Homo sapiens: one gene and its partner. The gene in region 1 interacts genetically with each later gene. Each region holds a gene or a part of one and is shown on either strand. Other genes may lie near its edges.

Region 1 (7,901 bases):
GGTAATGGACCTTCTTGAACTGACACTATGAAGATAAATAAAATCTCATCCATGACCTCTAAGGAACCTCTAAGTGACTTTTAAAATTCAAAATTTTAAGGTATACACAATTAAAGAAATTTGGCCTCAATGTTACATACCACTTACTGTAATATTTGTTTATTCAATAGTTATGTTAATTTGGAAGTATCACCGAACTCTTCGATCAAGATAAATAATGATTTTCCAAATAGATTTTGGACTCTAAAGGAAGAAAGATTTTCTTTCTTGAAAATACGTGATTTTATTCTGCAGAGAAAACTCTTTTAAATGAACTATTACTATATTTTAGTCAACTTAAATTCAGATTTATAACTTCATGTAATATACCAAAAATGCTATTCATAAATAGCTACACAGACAGACTTATATAGAGACAAGTATTGGTGACCACTTCAAAATGAATCGAATCAAATCAGATACTTAGAACATATTTCAGAAGAACAATATTCATTTTATCTTGGCTCCCTCAGATCCTTTCTGGAACAAAGTCAAGTGTAATAAAGAAAAAATCATGTAGGGGCAAATGAGCCGTCTCTCTGTGATCAGGATTTTTAATGCTTCACTTACTTTAGTTGTCCTGTGTCCTTTTGTAGATAATAACACATACGTGTCATTTAATGTGATGTTTCTGTATAGTATAATAAGACAATCTTATATAGAAAAATTCGAGCTGAGCAATGGCTTTAAAGAGGTTCTTAAATTTTGAAGAAAAATTGATTACATATTTCTGTATATTTTGGTACACTGCGGTTTTCTTAAATTGATCAGAGTAATATATTATACTCTTATACTATTTCTGCAATGTGGTAGATGTCTTAAATCAATCTCAAGTTCTTGATAACATAGACTTTGTATTCAGGTCTGGATTTAAAGCAAGATTGTGCCTTTCATTAACTTGGGTTGATTATCTAATCTTCATTTTTCTCATCTGTACAATGGGAATAGTATCAACCACATAAGCCTCTTATAGGAATTTAACAATATGATGAATTTTTAAAAACTAGAAGAATTCCCTGACACGTGGTTAGTGCTCACTACATGGCAGTATATGTTAAAATTACTATCATGGATCAAACCTTTGATTTTTATATATATGCTGCCTTACAATTATAACAAGAGCACGTTGAAAAGAGTAAAAAAGTGGATTAGGGTTTTGCAGTTTTTACCACATCCTTGGGGAATCTGGTATGAAAAAAGAAATATTTAATATGTTACACTCTGCAGATTTCCTTCATATGGTTATTTTATACTTCTGCTGGAATACCAACTCAGAAATTCAATCACAAAGAAGGCCATTGGATAACCTTACCCAAATTAGGGATAATGACAGTTTCTTACAATCTTTAGATGTATTAAAATATATAGGCACATTTTGAATATATAATACCTTTCCAGGTTTTACATAAAAGAAGCCTAGATTTCCATCTACATTTATCTATTCAGCTGCTTGTTTGGAAAAGAAAAAAACAATTTATATTTAGAAAGACATTGAAGCCAGATCCCCATTTGATTTTTCTGTATCTTAAGCTCTCTGATGTGGTGGTCATGGGGCTTCATTGTTCTAAGCCATTGCTGTTTCTTTTTGGCTTAAGGAAAACCTTAATTTTTTTTTTTTTTTGCTAAAGCACTGCTAAAATTTAATTTCCAACTTCTACTAGAAGCTTCAGATTTTAAAGACTTTCCTTTAATTAAACATTTGGAGTGAGAAATCCATTTTTTATATAGGCAGTGCTCACTAAAACTGTCTTAAGTGTAATTGAAATATGCACATTTTTCTAGTATAGATCTTATCATATATCTCAGAAGGTAATGTCTTTGTTCTTTTGGAATTAATGTTGTCCATAACAAATTTCTGTCTGGCGACTCGTTACTGTTGCTAATTTAGTGTGAGATGTTTGGTCATAATCCTAAACTATCATTTGGGATGAGATTGTTATAAAATAATGGTTTTTTAGTCACATTTCATATCAAATGAGACACTGACAGAGCATTCTTTTAAAAAACCAGTTATGAACTTGACTACAAGAAAAGCAGAAAACATGGATTCCAAAATGTTTTGGTGAAGACATTATTCCATAAGGTAGCTAGTGTATGGCAAACAACAACAACCACAACAACAAAAGCCATTTAAAAAATGGCACCAGTCTAAAATCACTGGCTTGCTTTGTCACTTTTAATAGGTAAAGTAGTTAAGAATGCAAAATGTTGATGCTTGGTAAAAAAAATGCCAATATAACCAAAGCGATTTCCCTTATACAAAGCTCTTCTCTGTATGATGTAATTTGTCATACCCTACACAAGGATAACTTTCTATGAATAGGGCAACATTTTCTGCCCTAAAGGACCATGGCAATTGGTGGTAGGCTGATCTCGCCCAATCTATCCCTTCTGTTTCCCACACACACTCTTTCTGCCTCTGAGTGATTTTATAGTTTACTTAAGGAAAGGCATTTACAGATGGTGAGTCTATCAAGTATAAAATAGAATCTATATTTTGCCTGATAAATAAATAGTCATGAGAAAACACTTCTAGTTGAAATCCTCCAATGTCTTCCTTTCTGTGAACCATCTTAAAATTAAGGGTCTTATAAGTCTATATGATGTGTTAATTCCTGCATTATTGTATTAGGAAGACTATTTTCCGAATATCTTAAAAATTTCACCCGCGTAAGGAAATTTGCCCGAGATAAGCTGGTGGTGTGTATTATTTGGAGACATGAGCTAGACATTGTAATCCTGAACTGGGTAAACCAAGCCCAAGTGTTTAAAATGAAAGTTTTCAAGAATTTTAATTACTTTCCTTTTCCAGAGATAAAAGAGATGTTAATAGCGCACTTTTGGATGTTTCTAAACCACAGTGTTATCCAATTTAGACGTATTGGACCTTTGGGGTGGGTTTCTCCTTAACGGTTAAGCCTTTTTTCACGGGGTGCTAAAACAATAGCACATTCAGAATTATTATAGTGAGAATTCAAGTGATTCAACTTTAACAACCGAATGCACTTTTTTCTTCACAAGTAAATACTGTAGATTAAAAGTGTGCAGAAATTACTCTTAATGCTTTACAAGAAGAGTGGTTGTTTTATTCTTTCGCAAGACTATTTCATTACCGTAATTTTCAAGCATGCCGAGGTGTCCTAATGTCTCTTCTAATTGCTTGAATGTCGCTGACCTTTTTTTAAAAGAACACACAGCGCCCATAATATGCAAGGGAGACCTAAGTTAAGTAGCAGCACCAAAACGTATCCACCAAACAAAGGCTCTTCCTCAGACGGCCCCTTCTGGAGAGAACCTTTCCTAATATTTTCCAGTAGGGGGAACTAAAGACTCACCATCCAGCATTTAGCTCGGCTCGGGGACCTGCGTGAGTTCCTATAAGCCGCCTTCTCATCATCTGAACAAGCATCAAACGGCTACCAGCGAGCCTGTGATCACACGTGGGCCCGGCCGCACCGGGGCACCGCCGACACCGGCACCCCTTTGATCTAACGTGACCTTCCTTCATCATCCCCGGTCCTGAATGGCATCCTTTGGTAGTCTTGGTCTTAATTTTCAGAGTTTTGTCGTCTTTGGGCTGAAATTCGGCTTCTTTTTGAGCTTCCATGAGCTCAGCTGGGCTTTCGGCTTTCCACACCCAGAGCCTATGTTTACCGAATTTCCTTCTGGAGGTGCTGGTCCCTGGAGGGTAAAGACTTCGGGGATCCCCCTCCCCCAAGCTCTGTGATCCCCGCTTCCCCGTCCTTAGCATCTTCTGTGGAACTCCCTCGCCCTGCGCGATCGCGCATCAAACTCATCGTGGAGGGGTCAAAAGGCAACTGAGTAACATAAGAGGGGCTGCCTCCCCTTCCTCCTTCCCTTGGGGATGCCGCAGGGGGCCATAGATCTTGGCTAAAATGAGCCGCTGGAGGTTAGAGAATTCTGCCCCCTCCTTTTTCTCCCCCTTGTGCTTTTGAATCATATAGGAAGCATCTACACACAACCTTTCCAGTCCAAAAGGTGCTTCTATTTCCTTTCCTTTCCTTTCCTTCCTCCTACTCGGCTTCTCATCTGGCTAAAAGGTGAAGAGTGAGTGAGTGTGTGATTTTAACGCGTAATGAGGCTGCGCCCTGGGTCCTGGAGGCTGATCTTTTTCAAGAAAGCGCGTGCAGCTCCGGCAGACGGAGGGATGAATAATTAGGAAGGGCTTCCATGAAATCACTCACGGAGAAAATTACCTGCCCATTAAACGGGACGCGGCGAGGAGCAGGAGCCTGGAGCCCACCTATCCCCTCCCGAGGCGGGAAGGAGTGGGCACCCGGGGGCGCGGAGAAGGGGAAGGAGTCGCCCGGTGGCCTCGGCCCTCGGCAGCCGGCGGGGCTCTCCGAATTTGTTCATCTCCGTCCCCCCGGGGACTCTCGGCTCTCCAGGACCCCTCCCCACTCCCCAGCGGGCGGGTGGCCGAGTCCGGAGGTTCAGGGCTCCGCGCGCCCCTCCTCGCCCCCGCCCCTCCCCGGGCCGACTCCAGGCAGCTCTCATTCCTCCCCTCCCCTCCCGCCTCCTCGCCTTCCCTCCTAGAAGTCCTTCCACCCGCGGCAGCTGCCGGAGGAAGCGGACGCTCTGCTGCGAGGCTGCGGGGGCTGGACCCGGGCGAGGGGCCTCAGCGCGCCTGGCGCTGGACTGAGCGCTCCCTTTCTCCGCCGCGCCCGGGCTGGGCTCTCACGCCCGTCTCTGCTCGCGCCCGCAGCCGCCTGGTGCACTATCCTCAGAGGCGGCACCGCGGGGGTGTCTGCAGCCTCGGCCTCCGCCCGGCCCCTCCCTCCCTCCCTCCCTCCCTCGCTCCTTCCCTGCCTCCCTCACCACGTAGGAGTTCGGATTCTCCACCCGAATCGTCCTGATTTCCCTTCTCCTCTCTTTTGGAAACCGGAGAGGTGGAGGGAGGGCAACACCGCTGCAAAGGAGAGGCCCGCCAAGTCTGCCCGCCTGCAAAGTGTTGCTTTGACACATTCTTATTATGGAAGTTAAGTAAAAATATAGACATATTAAAAAATAACTCCGGACGTGGAGCTGCTACGGAGAAGGAAACCGGGGGAAAGAAAACCAGTAGGCAGGCCAATGGTTTTTCGGCAGCGCGCTGGCAAGTTTGTGGAACACTTTCTAGGAATTAGGTCTTTTCCTCCCCCTTCATCATCTTGACTTCTGAAGGAAGAACTTGGCTTTGGATTGCAGTGGAGCCTAAGGAGAGAGGGTTAGACACACTCGAATAATCCCTCTGGCTGGGCTGAATTTGTGGGAATTTAGGAAGCCAGAGTGCTGGAAATACAGCAGCCTTTGAAGTACCCTCTGTTAATTTGGATGGATCTCAGTGTGCCCCGTTCGAGACCTCTCCACCAACCCCTTCTGATCTTGCGATTTGCTCTTCTTGACTTTAATTAGTATCTAGGAAAGTCTAAACTTTGGACCTACCTCTTTTTTTGATACTCATTTTTGTACTTTTGCTCTCTGGGATTGGTTTCTTAAAGAATCTGGATCCTTTTTAATATGTCAAAATGAGTCTGCTGATGTTTACACAACTACTGCTCTGTGGATTTTTATATGTTCGGGTTGATGGTAAGTTAAAAATGCTTTCATCTTTTTTTGCGCCCCCCACCCCCCAATCCCCCAAAACCATTTCTTTTTGAATTTGATGTGGGTTATAAATGAAATGACATTATGTCTGTTAGTCCGTTTTGGCCCGGCACGGGCTCCTTGGGGGCAGAGGTTTTATTTAAGTCTTTTGTTTCTAAACTGCTGTAAGTGGAATGTGTTGGTAGTCACCTATTGTTGTTATTGTTGTAATTTACTTCACTAATTAAGGAGTTGGATAATAAATGATTGGGCTCCCAGTTTTGTTAGAAAAAGAAATATTACAGTCAATCTCCTGCAAGAGCCTAATACTATTGTGCCTGCTCTCTATTTGATGTTTGCTCTTGTGTCTGAACTTTGGCTGAGACATTCAAGTGAAGAAATACAGTAATAGACACTCTAAGGAAGGTTCAGTGGGTTAGGAATTTGAGACTGAGATCAATGTGTATCACCTGTGTGCCAGTGAATGCTCTCCTAGCGTTAAATCGAATGAAGAATTTAGATCCTAGGGAGAAAACTGTCAAAAGTGAGACTGGGCGAGGCTCCACGAAGGGGGAAGCATCAGCTATGGGCTGGCCACAGGAGTAGAACACTTAGCTCAGTCCCCAGTGGGCAAACACAATGGGGACCTTAAACAGGTGCTGGAGGTGTCTCCCTCTAGGTTGAGTCAGTCTGTCAAGCCCACAGCATTCTGCCTCTGATTCTCTTGTCTTTTGTTCCGATTTGGTTTACTGGGATATTTTCACAGGATGTCAATTTCTTGTGCGACTATTGCAAAATCCTTTTTTGTGGTTCTTTTGAATGAAGAGTGGAAATAATCATTAACATGCTTTTTGGTTTGTATTCAAAAGAAAAAAGTTAAAAGAATATTTGCTGTTAACCTTCTAGAGGCTTTAATTTTTATATCGATGGAAACAACTGGTATAAGGGAGTACTAGATATTTTTTTTTTCTAACTGGATTGCAGTACTTTAGGTTTTTAGTTACTTTCTGTACTTGTAAAGAACCTAAAGGGTATTAGTCTAACTGTTTGAGCCATCACAATAGCTTGTTGCCACATAAACTTTCCTCCAGCATTTGCATTGTGGATGAATTCATTATTTGGGACACTGCCTATTTTGGCCCATCTGAGTAGCTAACTTTGTTCCTGGCAGCTACTGCTGCATAGAGCCCAATGTATTGGACTCAAAAAGGAAGGCTTTCTATAAACATGAGGCAATACAGAGGAGTTTACCTACTGTCAAGTGGCTGTTTTCAATCATGGACTACATGAGTACCTTTGCCCCCCAGCGATAGTGAGGGAGGGATGCGTGTGTGTGCACTGCTTCTCTCTTTTACCAGTCTAAGCAGTAGATGTTTAAGATTTAATTATTGTGAATTATACTATGGCAACATCTCTAATTATTTTTCATGCATTTATTTTTCAGTACATTAAAATACGTGTACATTACCGTAACAAAATAGGTTTACCTATTTGTCCCAGGTGTGTTTGATTTTCATGATAAGAAGAATTTGGTATAACTTTTAAAAGAATATGTCCTCATAAATCATGAATTTACATATCTCAACAGAAATGCATGTGTAAACTATACATTAGACTACAAAATTATCACCAAGGGTTTTTTTATATAAGCGTTTTTAAATCAGTGTGTTGCTAGGAGGAATACAATTAAATTGCTCAGTGGAAGTGACAGGAAATCAGAAGAGCTTGGTGTTACAGAATGTAATTAATATACCAGGGTGTTTGGAGATATATGAAACAAATGCAATTAACCAGCTTGCTGGAGCAGCAGTAGTAAGACACCATTTCTGTCTGCCTTCCCTCCCTCCCTCCTTTCATTCCTCCCTCCCTTCTTTCTCTCCGTTTTATTCCTCTCTCCCTTCTTTCCTTCCTTCTCTCCCACACCACCCTTCTCCTGCCCCCAAAGACAACCTAGAACCTTTGTTCTGATTTAACATTGTAGGATAAGGGGGCAGTTTGTGTCTGGGCCACAATTATGCAGCAGAACTCATAGTAATGTAGTGAAAAATGCCAAAATTGAGGAGTTGACACTGAAAAGGCAATATTAAATTTTTGTGTGTGTGAAACTAGTTTTGTATTTAGCATCTGCTGTGTCAAAAGCAAAGGAAACCCTGGACACTCTTACTAAATTAATATGTAAATCATACGTTTGACATTGGATTGCCTTTGGATACTTCAGAATGACAGTTTCTCCACGGGGATGGTTGAAAATTTGGGATGTGGAGAACACTGCCCTC
Region 2 (7,039 bases), on another chromosome or scaffold:
TCTCCTGACTCAGCCTCCCAATTAGCTGGGATTACAAGCACGCGCCAACATGCCCGGCTAATTGTTTTGTATTTGTAGTACAAACAGGGTCTCACCATGTTGGCTGAGCTGGTTTCGAACTCCTGACTTCACGTGATCCACTCATCTCGGCCTCCCAAAGTGCTGGGATTACAGGCGTGAGCCATCGTGCCCAGCCTGGTGACTTCTTTATTTAGAAAAGGAGCCCCAAATCCTAGTGGCAGCTGTACTTTAAAGTATAACAGGATTCTCATAGCGCCCTCTGTTGGAAATGTTTCTCTTCTGAGAACCAGGATCTTTTAACCCCTTGCCATCAGAGCTATGGAGATGGGAAGCAGAAACTGCCCAGGTGATTCACAGAGTGATGCTATGCGGAGCCACTCCTAATTTCATGTGATCTTCCTACTGGGAACACTGGAGAATGGGCGCCTCACCCTTGCAGGGCATCATGCCCAAGCTGCAGGATCTCATCATCAGCTGTGCCATCAAAGGACTGTTTTACTGCTCTATCAAGTCATCAGCTTCTGGACGGTGTGGTGCAAGATGGGACAAATGATTCTCCTATTCTATAAAAGTGGGTCCCGGCCGGGCGCGGTGGCTCACGCCTGTAATCCCAGCACTTTGGGAGGCTGACGTGGCCGGATCACGAGGTCAGGAGTTCGAGACCATCCTGGTCCACATGGTGAAACCCCGTCTCTACTAAAAACACAAAAATTAGCTGGGCGTGGTGATGTGCACCTGTAGTCCCAGCAACTCAGGAGGCTGAGGTAGGAGAACTGCTTGAACCCGGGAGGCGGAGGTTGCAGTCAGCTGAGATCACGCCATTGCACTCCAGCTTGGGCAACAGAGCAAGACTCCGTCTCAAAACATAACATAACATAACATAACATAACATAACATAACATAACATAACATAACATAACATAACATAACAGTGGGTCCCTTATTCTGAAATGATCCCTGTAGTAGAGGATCAAACATCCTGCAAGCCCTCAAACAGTAGTCCTGGGTGAGACCCTGCTGGAAAGACAAATTCAGACCCAGAATATGTCTCAAATCCAATCAAAATGAATCATGGTCCTTTCCACTGTATAAGGACTGGTTGGCCTGCTTGAAGGATGATTGATCTCTGCTGCTGTCAGGCTGGATATTCAGCAGCAGCAGTTGCTAGATCAGCACTGGTGAATGAAAACCCTTTTATTGGGCCCATGCACAGCCATCATCGGTAATTTTTCCATGCACTCATAGGCCAAAAGAAATACCAAACAGTAGTGTTTATTAAGTAGTTAGATCCAAATAACAAGAATTCATGTCCTAACAAATGAGTAGACATTTGAAAAAATAACACATAAATTGGAAGAAAAATATTTTTATTTCCTTCTTAAAAACTACAAATACTGGGCCAGGCGCAGTGGCTCACGCCTGTAATCCCAGCACTTTGGGAGAACGAGGCAGGCGGATCACGAGGTGAGGAGTTCGAGACCAGCCTGACCAATATGGTGAAACCCCACCTCTAGTAAAAATACAAAAATCAGCCGAGTGTGGTGGGACACGCCTGTAATCCCAACTACTCAGGAGGCTGAGGCAGAAGAATCACTTGAACCTGGCAGGCGGAGGTTGCAGTGAGCCGAGATCGCACCACTGCACTCTGGCCTGGGTGACAGAGCGAGACTCTGCCTCAAAACAAACAAACAAACAAAAACTTCAATTACTTGATAATATGACATGTGTGCCTGTTAGACACAGAACAACTTCTCAAACTTGGAATCAGACTGAACATGCCACCCTCCTTTCCTGTTCCACACTGATTTTTGCACAGTGCTTGATCTGTATCACAACTAGTAAAAATCCAACCCTGCAAAAATATGACATCATCAAAAGAAATGTGGCATGAGCTAATGTCAAAACCGTGAACTACCTCAAGCTAGTAATTTGTGACAGATATTGCTGTGTTTCCTTTAAAATTCTGAAATATCCCATGGTATTCTTTTGTGTCTGTGGTGGTGCTTTGGGGTGCCTTGGTGCAGTTTGGGAACGTGTGTGTGTGTGTGTTTGTGTGTACAGTCCCTTCCTCCCTTCGCAGATCCAGCACCCCGAACTAGGTGTTCTTGTGACTTAACCCTAGTTGTTGGTTTGGTGATAGTCAGTAGGCGAGAGAGGAGGAGCTGGGGGTAAGAGGGACAGCACAGTCTGCAAGCAACCCCTCTAGCTAGTAGAAGAAGGCCACTTCTGCAGGCCCAGAGGGTTAAGAGGAATTTGGGGTTTCAGGGTTTTCAAGTGCACTCAGATGCCCCATCCTAAGGGTCAGGATTCCTGCCCAACCAGAACACTGACCTTAGCATAGCTGAGAGAGAATTCTACCTACCTTGGTGCTCTGCTACCCTTAAAATTAAGTTTTGGGTTGAAGCCTTAGATTTTTCCTCTTACTGTATATGTGTTTCTTTACATGATGCTAAATAAATTTCCTTTTACATTTTGCCCCCAATTATCTTCCACCTTGCATCATCTTTCTCCAATCTATCAATGTTATTTACCAAAAGCCATCTGATGATTGTCCTCATAATTAATTTCTCTGAACTTCTCAAAAGCCTAGTGCACTCACCAGTGCATTCCCTTCAACAGGAATAGCATTCCAACTCACCACCAGTGAAAGTTTTAAGTTGCATAGCTACAGTGCATGCCAAGCGTTATCAGTATTAGTGCTCCATCTAGCACCAGAATCGATTCTCATTGCCAGCCAGCCAGCCAATAATCCAGCTTCAAAACCTCACTGTAAAGTCTACTTTCTGAGACCACTCCTGGCACCAACTGCTTTGGGTAGGAGGGTTCCCAGGAAACAGACTCTCAAATGCAGATGTGCACACCGGAAGTTTATTGCGGAGTGCCCTCCGAACCAACAACTGTGGGGCAGTGAAAGACGTAAGACTGAACAGAGGAAGGAGTTGATCTGCAATGCAGTCCCAGGAAGCCCTCAGCCAGACCCATGGGAGAGCTCTCTGGTGTTGGGATAGACTTCAAGGTTGGCTTGTCTTATAGCAAAAGCGCTAGGCATTTATATCCCTACACTGTATAGATATTAGATGTAAACTGCCCCTGAAGAGGAGGCATGACTCTGGGGGAGGCAACTCTTGGCTCAGGGCAATGCGTGGAGTGGGACTCAGCTGCAATCAGTTTTAGCTGCCAATATTGCCAAGAGCTAGGGGAACATGTGCCTGAAAGCGGGATCTGAAAGCCTAACCACAGCACCTGCCACACCACCACTGGACTATTACACCAATTTGGCTAATGAGGGAAGAGAATTAAGCATTTATGCTGCTGGATTAGGAGAAACTACATTTCACTGACAGTCAGTGAAGGCCAACTCTTCTTTGCAGAAGAGTACCAGCTAATAAACATAGAAGAAATAACAGAATTATTTTTTAATTCATCATTTTGCAACCCCTAATGAAATTATTGACTCAGACAAGGATTATCAAAGAATGCTAAAAGCATTAGGTAAAAGGCATTCACAATGTGCTCAAATTTTTACCCTGTGATTACTTGTTCTTTACAAATGGAAAAAGCATACATTTACAGAGATGAAATCTAGTAGGTACCGTCTTACCCAAGTAATCAGATTTAACATATTAAATAGTGAGACAACCTCACAACCTCTGGATGGGATGCAACATGCAGTACCCAGCGCCATATACAATATTCTTGCTAAAAAATTTTCTAATGAACACCTAATAAACCCTTAAGGTCTAGCTTCCACTTACAGGAAATACAGATACAAGACAGAAAGATGAACAATACCTGGGGGCCCTGCCCTTAAGGAGCTAGATTTATATGACATTCTAGAAAAGGTAAAATATTAGTGACAGAAAACTGATTTGCAGCGGTCAGTAACCAGGGGTAGGAGGGCCTGACAGAACTTTTTATATGAAGTGATGGAAACAGTCTATACTTGACTGTGGTGATAGTTTCAGGACTCTTCAAATGAACATTTAAAGAGGATGAATTTTATTGTATATAAATTAAACCTCAATTAACCTAACCCCTCCTCAGAAAACCTAAATGTTTAATCTGGTTTTTGAGAAAAAAGTGAGACTATTCTGTTGATTTTTTAAACAAATATATTAAAGGACAAAAGTATTTTTAGATTGACATTTTTATTTTCCTTTTAAGCCCAGAGGCAAGATTTTTTTCTTCTCTTGAGTTAGGAAACTAATTCATTTCACATTTCTACCTACCAGTATACCAATAGAGCAGTTTTTGCCTTAACTTGTGTTTATACACTATACAGGATTCCACTGATATAACAGCTACATGAAGAAAATTACTACCTATGCACAAATACAGATGTACACATACAGATTCAATCCCGCATTACTTCCTGACATATTCCTACAATAAATAACGTCTCTTCATAGCTTAAAACCATCAAGGGTGATCAGTGTCTACTGAATAAAATCTAATTCTTACCTTGGTCTTCAAGATGCCCCATCCTAGCCAAAGCCTCCATTTCCAGAATGAATTCCACTACTGTCCTTCATGACACCTGCATTCTAGCTCTAACAGAATTCCTACTGTTACCTACATACAAACTGTGCTTTCCTGTCTCTGCTGATGCTTTTAAGCCAGCCTAGAATGCCATGCCTTTGTCATAGTAGGTTATACTTTCTTGGTCATTTCATTTAACACTTCTATAAGTATCTGCCTTTGTATCTTGCACTTCCAGATAGACAGTAAACTCAAGTCTAGAATTTGTGTCTTATAAATTTTTATAGGGCCAATGGTTAGTGCCAAGTAATAATCCCTGAGCAAGCTGAGCATGGTGGCTCACACCCATAATCCCAGCACTTTGGGAGGTGGAGGTGGGAGGATCACTTAAGCTCAGGAGTTCAAGACCAGCCTGGACAACATGGTGAGACCCTGTGTCTACAAAAAATAAAAAACAAGCCAGGCATGGTGGTGCATGCCTGTAGTCCCAGCTACTGGAGGAGACTGAGGCAGGAAGATCACTTGAGCCCAAGAGGTTGAGGCTGCAGTGAGCTATGTTCACACCATTGCACTCCAGCCTGCCTCAAAATAAGTAAAATAAAATAATCCCTGAACTTTTGCTAAAATGACTACTTAACCTCTTACAACCAAAATCCCATGCATCTGAAGGATGGACTCAAATACCATTTCTAACAAGAAAGAGATAAAGCAGCTGAAAAAACTAAGGGGGTTAAGTTTAGATTCCCCATTTTGGTCACAATCCCCTCTATTGTTTTCACTAACATTGTTCTTCTAGGACTTCAGGACCCAGATACTCTGACTCCTCTTTATCTTCCAGTCTATCAGTTCCCTCTTGGCATCACTTTCCTTTTTACCATATAGTCAAACACTGTCCCCAAAACCTTCCATTTCTTTTTTCTTTAACCCTAAATCAACTCAACTAGGTTTTCTCCATTTCTATTTTGTGTGGAAAAACATACAGTGCCATGCTGGTTGGAATTTTAAATGTGATTTTAATAATAACAACAGGTAACATTTCATGGGCACTTACCAGGTGCGGACATAATGTCCTTTTGATAACACTACAAAGTTACAAGTAAAGAAACAGACAAAGTCTAATTAACTTGCCCAATTTAACACAAGTAGAAAAAGGTAGACGTGAACTAAGGGAGTCTACCTCCAGTGCTCTAACATTTAGCCACTGTGCTATGGTGCCTCCCAAGTGCATGGTTATACCACCATTCACATTCAGAACAGATCATACATTCCTTCATACATTTCCTGTCCAACCCCTTTCCCCAACAGAATGTTCCGATTTTGATTGGCCTCATTCATCCAAAAATATATCTATTCAGTCACTGGATAAATGAAAGAGTTATTCCCACATTCTACACAGTCACTGAGACCAAAAATAAAAGAGTAAGACATGATCCTTGCCTTCTCTTCAAGTCCCCACACCCCTCATTCTCAGCAAAAACAAACAGACAAAAAACAGTAACTAATATTTCATAGCAGTCAACATGCCAAGCACATACATTGATTCATTTAATCTACAAAACAATTCATGTTAGTATTATGATCCCCATTCTACATATTTAAAAAACTGAGGCATAGAAGTTATGTAATATACTCAAAGTTACACAGCTAGCAAATGACAAAACCAGGATGCAAAACCAGTCTAGCTTCTGTGCCCAAGCTCTTAACCACTTTGTTAGACTGTCATCAAAGTCACTGAGTCCATTAGGTTTGAAACTCTCAACTTCTCAACTGTACACCTAAAGCAAAGAGTAATTAATTCATTTGACATTGACTGATAACTCACTCATCATGTTTTTGTTTCTTGAACACAAGCCTGTTCCCATTTCAAGGCCTTTATAAATTCCCAGAACATTCTTCCTCTACATCTGCCTCCTCATCATGGCAATTCAATTTAAATGCCAACTCTCAAAGAGACATTTCCTGACCATGTTACCTAAAATAGCCCCACTACAAATTGCCCTATCACATGAAATAGGTTTTATTGCCTTCACAGTTACTTATTACTAAGTGAAATTATGAGTTGTCTATTTCTCCCATTGGAGTGGATTTTCCAAGACGGCAGAGACTTTGTCTATCTTGCTCACCGCTACATCTTCAGCATCTGCAATACTGCCTGGCACAGAGCAGGCACTTGATGTTTACAGAATTCATGCCAAAAAATGTGCTAGACATTGGGATTATCAAAACGAATAGGATATGATGCCTATCCTCAATAAACTCCCAGTCTTTATATTTACAAGTACTCACCTCCACCCCTTCTATATTAACTGCTCCTTTTTTCAATGGCTAACCTCTCCACCTGTCACCTTAACTCTATCCCTGAGATCCCTTTGACCTCTTCCTGTCCCTGAGATCCCTTTGACCTTTTCCTATCAATTATCCCCTCTCTCACTTCTTCACTCTGTCTCTCCATTTAGCCTCCCATATTTGCATATCCCACCCAACCTCCTATACTTGAATATCCTTCCCTCAACTTTGAAATCCCCTTGAGTTACCAAAA

Evidence for each region.
Region 2: of ROBO2 (region 1) and MYCBP2, changing one suppresses a phenotype caused by changing the other (phenotypic suppression), as found in Homo sapiens cells (one study listed by BioGRID).

What each region holds. Positions count from the first base shown.
Region 1 is NC_000003.12:77,035,219-77,043,119, forward strand, and holds the start of ROBO2 (roundabout homolog 2 isoform 23 precursor), read left to right. Parts: upstream 1-4,880; 5' UTR 4,881-5,567; coding exon 5,568-5,628; intron 5,629-7,901. UniProt on the Homo sapiens protein: Receptor for SLIT2, and probably SLIT1, which are thought to act as molecular guidance cue in cellular migration, including axonal navigation at the ventral midline of the neural tube and projection of axons to different regions during neuronal development.
Region 2 is NC_000013.11:77,317,056-77,324,094, forward strand, and holds part of MYCBP2 (E3 ubiquitin-protein ligase MYCBP2), read right to left. Parts: intron 1-7,039. UniProt on the Homo sapiens protein: Atypical E3 ubiquitin-protein ligase which specifically mediates ubiquitination of threonine and serine residues on target proteins, instead of ubiquitinating lysine residues.